Regions from separate parts of the Homo sapiens genome. Here all the other regions are linked to region 2. Evidence: fine-mapped expression QTL. A gene starts in region 2. Each other region holds a variant in brackets. All regions are shown on one strand. Distances are between the middles of the regions. Region 1 holds the start of SNX10-AS1 (SNX10 antisense RNA 1). Region 2 holds the start of KIAA0087 (KIAA0087 lncRNA). Region 3 overlaps LINC02981 (long intergenic non-protein coding RNA 2981).

The links.
Region 1: its variant is fine-mapped to the expression of KIAA0087 in cerebellum (GTEx, PIP 0.97).
Region 3: its variant is fine-mapped to the expression of KIAA0087 in prefrontal cortex (BrainSeq, PIP 0.95).

The regions. Positions count from the first base shown.
Region 1 is chr7:26,397,895-26,400,654 of GRCh38, forward strand. It overlaps SNX10-AS1 (SNX10 antisense RNA 1), which reads right to left and starts at 1,524. Exons shown (of 2, transcript NR_136272.1): 1 at 1,447-1,524. It overlaps LINC02981 (long intergenic non-protein coding RNA 2981), which reads left to right and starts at 675. Exons shown (of 5, transcript NR_148502.1): 1 at 675-1,127. RefSeq lists enhancers at 1-767, 1-81 and silencers at 552-1,011, 1,102-1,211. The variant G/A (reference allele first, on the strand shown) is at 1,185.
Region 2 is chr7:26,537,551-26,540,310 of GRCh38, forward strand. KIAA0087 (KIAA0087 lncRNA) reads right to left here and starts at 1,275. Exons shown (of 2, transcript NR_022006.1): 1 at 856-1,275. LINC02981 (long intergenic non-protein coding RNA 2981) reads left to right here. Exons shown (of 5, transcript NR_148502.1): 5 at 703-2,760.
Region 3 is chr7:26,486,031-26,488,790 of GRCh38, forward strand. The region is part of intron 1 of LINC02981 (long intergenic non-protein coding RNA 2981); the gene reads left to right. Among named protein-coding and RNA genes, the nearest start is that of KIAA0087, 51 kb to the right of the region's middle. The variant G/C (reference allele first, on the strand shown) is at 1,512.

The DNA.
Region 1 (2,760 bases), 140 kb before region 2:
CGCTGTGATAAACATGTAGGTAAAGCAGTTGGCATAGTACCTTGCGTAGAATAGTCCTCAGCATATGTTTACTACTGTCGTTGTTGCTATTAATAAAAGTGACCTAGCTCCTCTCCTCGAGAAGTTCACAAGGGGCCCAAATGTGACAGGGGGAGCTATCAGAAGGCGGGAGGTGACTTCTTGCCAGGGAGCAAGCCAGGGCAAGAAGAGAGGCGCCGTGAAGCCTGCGTTCCCTCCCGCACGCGGCTTGCCTCGGTGGCCACACGGGGAGCTCAGCAAGGCCCAGGGTTCGGGAGGCGGGTCCTGCACAGCGACGCAGCCTTGTCCCGGTGGCCGCAGGCCTGGGGAGCAGGGCGCAGCACACCCGCCGCCCGCTTGCAGGCGAGACGAGAGCGGGGCGCCGGGATGCTGGCGTCCAATTTAACCACCAGGGCGCACGGGACGGAGGCCGGGGGTCCCGCTTTTCCGTCAGAGTTCGCGGTCACGAGTGGAACCCACTGAGCACTCTAGTTTCCTGGTATTTTCATGGCAGTAATTGGATGACAGAGTCAAGAGGCAGGGCCTGCGCCGACACTGACTAGCAACGCGCGGCCTCTGAGCCGCGCCCGGCCGCCCACCCCTTCCTCCTCCAGCACCGGGCCGGCTCCCCCTCCCGGCCCGGCTCGGCGGCTGGGGGGTGGGCGGAGCCGCGGCCGGGCAGTTCATTATGTTGGACAGGGCGCGTCTGCGCCTCCGGCCGCCGCGGCTCCCGGGGCCTCCGCCTGCAGCCGGCGGCGGAACGAGGGCAGGCGGCTGAGACAGGCGAGCTATTTGCATTCCCCGGCAGTCATTTTTATATGCGGAGGTAATGAAGTTGTCAGCGGCGCCCCGAGTGTGGCAGAGCCTGATATTCAAATCGCCCTGCCCGCTCCGCCTGCTCCCGCCCGCTGGTCCCGGGAGCCCCAGGCTGCGCGCGCCCGCACCGCATCGCCGCTTTGCCCCGCGACCGCGCGCGCCTCCTCGTCCTCCCCCGCGCCTTTGTTTCCGTCTCCTTCTCCTTTCCCTCCTCTTTTGTGTCGGGCCAGACTCAGCCCCAGAAACCAGCCACCCTGCCGCGTCCGACTGCCAGGGATCCCTCACGCCGCGAGGTGAGCTGGTCGCAGGTGTGGGGAAGTTCGCGGGTGCAGCTAGGCCGCCGCCCTCGC[G/A]CTCGACGCCACGCCCGCCTCCTCTTTCCTTCCCCAGGGGCCCCTTGCCCTCCCTTCACCTCCGTCTCCAAGAAAGATGACCTAGTACTGCCATTACCGTTTGGGCCTAGAGGAGTTTTCGTTCCTCTTTCCGAATGCATATTTGTGGTCATTTTTTATGATTGCAGAAACCCAACACACAGCTATTCTGTCAGGCTGCCGAGAAAAGGCTGTTCGGCAGTTGCAGCCCTGGTGAGGCAATGAGGAGGAAAGGTGGACGCACCTGCCTGGAGTGGTTGAAGGAAGGCAGTGAACATCCACGCTCCTGGGGTTGGTTTTCCTGAACCTCTGTAGCTGTGCTGCTCACTGGGGCAGCCACTGACCACAAGAGGCTGCCGAGGGCTTGCAGTGTGGCCAGGCCAGACCAGGATGTTCTCCAAGTGGGAAATACACACCCCATTGTAAAGAAGACTGTATGGAAAAAAGAATGTGAACTGGCTCATTCATCATTTAAAAACATTGATTGCATATTGAAATGATAATATTTTGGGTATATGGGGTGAAATAAAGTATCATGAATTAAATCTTTTTTTAAAAATGTGGCCACAAAGAACATTTAAATTTACACATGTGGTTCACATTATATCTCTGTGGGATCGCACTTAAGACCCAACCCCACCCATCCTCTAACTCTGCCCTCTCAGCTTGCTCTACAGGTACTTTGGAACAGGGCAGGGATGGAGGGAAGGTCCTTGTATCTTAGGGATCAAATGCCCAGGAAAATAATTAGGAGGTGTTTGGGATTATGCTGAAAACCCTGACAACACTGAATAGCAGATGTCTCTTTCTTTTCCCTTTGTTCACTGTAAAGAAAAACTTACACTCCCCCACAGCCATGCCACAATTCCATGGACCAACCATTCATGTGTGAAGGTGGGCCTCTAGGAGTGTTTTGTGCCTTTTAGGAGTTATTTGTGGCACACTAAACTTGCTGACATGCCATTTAGAAAAGTGAATACTGTGTACGCACTGTAACAACTATTCCATAAGTATTTTTGGTGTACACTGTTCCTCAGCACTCACAGGCTTCGGAGTAGGGGCTCCCGGAGTATGCATTGACACGATGCGCTGCAAATGATCCGGGCGTGGGGAAGTCCCCGAGTGTGCATTGATTCCACACACGGCCACGGCTCCTACAGGGCTTTTATGGTGCAGCTCGCCAATGATCCGTGTGTTAAAGACTCCCCAAATACACATTGACACGATAGACTGGAGTTGTTTGGGTCTATCGTGGCAATGATCCGGGGATAATGGCAGTGTCTTATACAATTTCACTGAGATTGGAGTGCTCATGGTCCTAATGGCAGAACCGGAACTGCCCCAGTTAAGTCCCACCATGGCGCCCAGTAAAGGGTGTGTGGGTCTTTGACCTTCTGCTTCATGACACTGTGGCATTGCTAATTTTACTGATATTTTAACTAACATAATTGAGTTAGCATTTTTTTCCCCCTGAAAATTCATTTTTGTAATTCAACACCTGAATTAGGGAGTCCATCTAGTGATGGTTTCATTTGGTTAATCATAAGCTAAAGACCTA
Region 2 (2,760 bases):
GGCCTGAACCTTAGCTCGAGCTGTGTGACCTGGGTTGAGTTACTCACCTTCTACGAGGCTTAGTTTCCACCTCTGTGAAATGGGGATAAAGTGTCTGCCTCAAAGGGTCATTAAGGGGGCTAGATTGGTGAATGCACAGGCAGCTTCTGGAGAAGGAATTTTCCCAGGACTAGGAAGAAGAACTGGTGAGTGGGAGGCTTTGAAGGTGAGTGAGGGATGATAACAGGTCTATGAAGAAGTTCAGGCTGGGAGAGGTCTGGCCTTGGAGTGGGTTGGGGGTGCTCTGGGCAACCCTTTTCAAGGGAGGAGAAAATGGAGTAACCGTCAGGACAGAAAACAGGGTGCCTTGGTGCTAAGTTCCAGGGGGACATTGCCTTGGGGGAAGAAAAAGACATCTTGGAACCCCTATCTGTTTACTACTGTTCATTTCTTAATTCTTTATTTGTAATGAAGATGGGAAGGTTTACAACCTTGACAGTTCCATTTATTTCTACCATTTTCACCTAAAACAATACAAGGAACATCAATTATTTCCACCCTGGTTTCAACTGCAACTGGATAAAGTCGGCTTAATTAAACATGTTCAGTGTCTGAGGGTCTGTTTTGTTTCTCTGTCTGTCTGTCTGTCTGTATCTTTCTTTCTCTTCTACCAACCACCACACCATCCCTGTCCCCTTCTTCCTTCTCCTCTCCGTTTTCTAGCCTCACAGCTGGGCACAGGAAAACACGGAATAAGGACCCAGTGAACTAAAGGGGCTGAAGCCATGACTAGGAATCATATGCATGAAGAAGCCCAGAAGAGCCAATCCTCCCCAGAAGGGCACCCGGAGACCACTAAGGAAGGAGGGAGGATACCTTCTGTTCCCGTGTTCAGGCTCCAATGTATCCAGGTCACAGGAGGCTGCCTCTCCAGGCAGAGAAACTGATCCGTCCCTATCAGTGCCAGGCAGAGGGCAGGGGATTTCGCACCTGAGCAAGGGTTGGGATGACTCCCAAGCTTCCATTCTCCCTGGAGTTCCTCCCGAGGGTCTCTGTGACACAGAGGAGGAAGCAGGAGCTTTCTTTGCATAATCATGGTCAAATATTTATATTTGTTTAGGATTTGCTTCTATAGGATGTTTTCGTCATTCAAATCTATTTCCAAAATAAATCTGGATCTCTTTTATAAGAAAATGCAATGAAAACACCAGAATGATAGAGTAAGAAAATAGAACTGAAATTACTGAAAAGGAGCTGAGGAATTAGATGTTGCCAGGCATCTGAGATGAGATGATTAAAACAGCCAGGTGGCTCTGAGCTAAGGCAAAAGGCAGAATCTGGGGCAACACAGTTTATATCATCTGACAACATAAAGCATGCACATCCTTTGTGTCAAGCCGCACTGCTTCCTGGAACAAACTCAAGGCAGAATTTATTACCTGGGTTCCTGTTTAAGTGCATGTCGAATGACCAGTTGATGAAAGCCTTCAAATAAAGTTTTGCAAAAGAACAAAGAATGAGACGTGGAGTACTGACCCTCTCTGAAAGGATACCAGAATTAAGACTACAGAAGCCGACCCAACATTTGCTCACTACCTTTTAAATTGGACTTAATGCCATATTTTAAAAAATAACCACTTTTAAAATAATTTTTGCTTATATCAAAAGTAATACAGGTGAATTTCAGGAAATTTGTAAAATACAGCTTCAAAGAGAGAGGTGGAGAGAGAGAGAGAGAGAGAAATCTATCATCTATCACTCACCACTATTAACATTTTAGTGTCATCTTCCCATGTTTTTGTTTATGCATAGATATGCATATCTATTTTGCAAAGATAAGAAATTACTATATCTTTTAAACGTTTTTATTTGATAATGTACTATGAATATTTCCCATTCAATTAAATACCTCTACAGTGACACTGAATGCTTATGATACTGTATTGATATTAATATTGTAGAATACATCAGGAAGATATTATTACAATATGTTTAACCAATCCCCTGGATGCTAGATATTTGGGTTTCTAACATTTCATCTTTTTAAATAATTCTGTGATGAACATCTGTTCGCAGGGTACCCTCCATGACCAGTTGTGTTTCAGAGAAGGCAGATCTAGTCCATTCAAGGCCAGGATCCCCCGGAGGTCAGTACATTATTTGCCCAGTGAACTGTGGGCATATCTATACTTTTTGCACTTTTCCAGGCAGGAAGGAGGAAGTAGTACTGAGAACCCACTGTCTTGGGTTAAGGAGCATTCTCTGGGCTGCTTAGGGGAGAAGATTTCTATCCCAAGGTCCTGCAGCCTTGGGGTAAGATGGGAGCAGAGAAGACAGAGTGTGGGGCCACTGTGGAGGCAGCAGGGAGGGGTTCCTTGTGGCCACTGATCGGAGCCCTCATATTCCTTGTGGGGAGGCTCTAATTTCTCCAGAGATGCTTCTCTACTTGGAGGTCTGCCCTGTGTCGGGAGCATTAGTGGCCCTGCAGAGAGGTGGGACGTTATTTGGATACTCTTGCTCGTAGGGAGTTTGTTGCCTCCCAAAAGGTGTGTGGCATTTGTAAGTTGTTCTCCTTTTCCATGGTTCTTCAGAAGACTTGAATATGGTTTGTAATCTAGGCACCAAAATTGAAATTCCCTCCAAAGAGCCACACAAATAAATGACCTCCCATACCATTAAGTTCTCTCTATGCATGGCAATCCCTAGTTAACCTCAGACAGGTAAGAAGAGAGAGTGTTTTTCATCAATGACAAGGAAAGTTTTTTCTGGCTAATGTGGTAT
Region 3 (2,760 bases), 52 kb before region 2:
GCCAGCATGCCTCCACCAGGATGAAGAGCCTCGTCTGTCATAGGAATTAAATTATCATCTCAGGCTTAATTACCAGTGGCATTTTCTCCCTGAGTTCAGAAAAGTTTTGTTTTGTGTTGTTTTAAATAAATGATTGGCATAACACAACCCAATGGTGATCCAGATTTTCAGAGCAAGTATAGGAGGTTTGGGCCCAGCGAACCAACAGGGTACATACAAGCATTTGATTTGGAATGACATGCTGCCGGTTTGTGAAGATACGGGCCGGCTCTCTTCTTGGCTGATTTATCTTTCAGCACCGCTTGTGCATCAGCCTGTCAGTCAGTGAGTGACACTGTCAGGTTTCTTGGTGTGCTGAGGACACTGCAGTGGGTGACTGGGCAAGTTGAGGAGATGCAGAGAAGCCCCTTGAGGCAAACTCAGCCCAGGGGATCTGAGCTGGGCGTGGAGATGAACAGAATTCCGGGTGCACCAAAAGTTGCCATTAAATGTCCTATTTACGTGAAAAGACAACTGCAGTGTGGCACCATGGCCCTGGGAGAACAGCAGCTTCTTTTTTTTTTTTTGGAGAAAGGTTCTCATTCTGTTACCCAGGCTCATTGCAACCTCTGCCTCCCGGGTTCAAGAGATTTTCCCACCTCAGCCTCCCCAGTAGCTGGGACTATAGGTGTGCGCCACCACACCTGACTGATTTTTGTATTTTTTGGTAGAGACGGGGTGTCATCATGTTGGCCAGGCTAGTCTCAAACTCCTGACCTCAGGTGATCACCTGCCTTGGCCTCCTAAAGTGCTGGGAGGGGCTTCTTAACCATCAACAGAAATGGGCTGGAGCCAGGCAGACCTGGGTTTCAGTCCCAATTTTGCCTTTCAGTAGGTGGTTGCCTGTGAGTTTGTGGCACATTACTTGATTTCTTTGATCTTTGATTCATCTAGGGAAAAAGAGAATAATCTGATCTACCTCTGCGGGTGCTGGTAAGGATTAAATAAGAAGATACATGCAGACCCAGCATGGTGCCGAGCACACTAAGCATTCAGCAAATGGTAACTATGGAAGCCCCGTCACTCCCACCCCTGTCTTACTACACAATGATGGTGGTCTCCTCTCTACCTGAGTCAGACCCATTTAAGGAAATGTGGAAGGAGAAATGCTCCAGGCTCCTCCCCGTTTCCCAAAAAGAACAAAATGAATGGAGACAAGCCGTGAACTTGGCTTTATCACTCTCTTGCATGGTCTGGCTTTAGGGGAAGAAAGAAGACCAGGGAGGAAATCTGCAGTGTGAGCCACTCTTCTCCCCCAGGGTTACTTCTCGGGCTTTTGCATGGGCAATTCTACCTGTAGGTAAAATTTCCATAGGCCCAGGAAACAAAGTAAGTCCAGCAAGTGCTTGGCTAACTGTTGGCAACCAAGGACTTCTGAGATTTTTGCTTATAAGGTTCACCCCAGTTCATGCTTTCAAATGCCCTTGTCTCTCTGCAAAGCCAGCTTCCTTCAAGATTTGTAACTTGGCTTT[G/C]GTCAAATAACTTTGAAATTGAATGCTGTATCTCAAGATTGATGGCCCAATAGGCATCAGGACCACATTTGTTTCCTGCCCAGGACTTTTTCAGGGGAGGAGGGATGAATGCGGAAAGGTAGAGCACAATATCAAGGTCCACGAGGGGTGTTCTGCTCCCTTGCCCTACCCCCACATACACACCAACACTACCTGCCTCTCAGCTTCTCTTGCAGCCAGCAGGCCTACTGATCCATCATTTATCACTGTGAGGTGCTGCCTAGAAATCAGGCCCTATGGTTTATTGATGTTGCCACTACTTGGAGGGTCCCGGGAGCCAGGCGCTAGTGGGTTTACTCTTGCAGTGGATGCTGTGGGGCTCTACCCAGATTCTCCTTCAGGACCAAAGCATCATTCCCTCGGCTACCAGGAGCACTGCCTGCTGGTGGCTTACAGTGGAAGCTCTTGGCCTTTGGCCAAAGAGGGCTGCCTTGCTCAAGGATATGACCTCTCCTGGGGGTATCTTGCATTCAATGACTGGCCACTGTGGGGGATACAAAGGCTGGACCCCCTTGCCTCAGTTGGGCCAGTTCTAGGGGCCATCCCAACCCCTGTGTGGCCAGCTGAGGCCTCTGCTGTGACTGCAGCCCAGTTCAGCCTCTCCTGCAGCCCAAGGCTGCTGCCCGCATTCACTCACAGGTGTGGTTCCTATTGGACAACTCTCCAATAGGCCCCCTGGACACAATCTTATTTCAGAGTCTGCTTCCTGGAAAATCTGACATGCCACAATGCTCCCAAAGTCCCTTGGGTGGAGGATTTCATAATGAACAGCCAGGGAGGAAAGACTTTCAGAATGTAAGAGAGAACAATGCGTGACAACCACACCACTGATGTAAATTCAATCTCCAGTCTCCATGACCAGTTCCCCCTCCTGCTCTCCTGGGTGGGTTGGGGGAAGAAGGTAGCTATAGATGTGGTTACAATAAGGTATAGGCTAATGAAATGGTTGAGCCATATTTTTTTTTTCTAGAGTGTCATCACAATCTGAAAATACCATTATCTGTCTGACCCTGAAGGCTTTAATCCATTCTTGGGCAAATTTCTGTGTTTTGGGGGAAATCTAAAAATGAGCCTGTGGAGAGGCATGAGGACTGGTTTATGAGTAGGAGTGGTTAGTCGATCACCTGTTGTATGTGCTTTGAATTAAATGATATAATTCTCTTGCATTATATCCAAAATTCCAATAAAGATCTGATATTTGAGTTTTGAA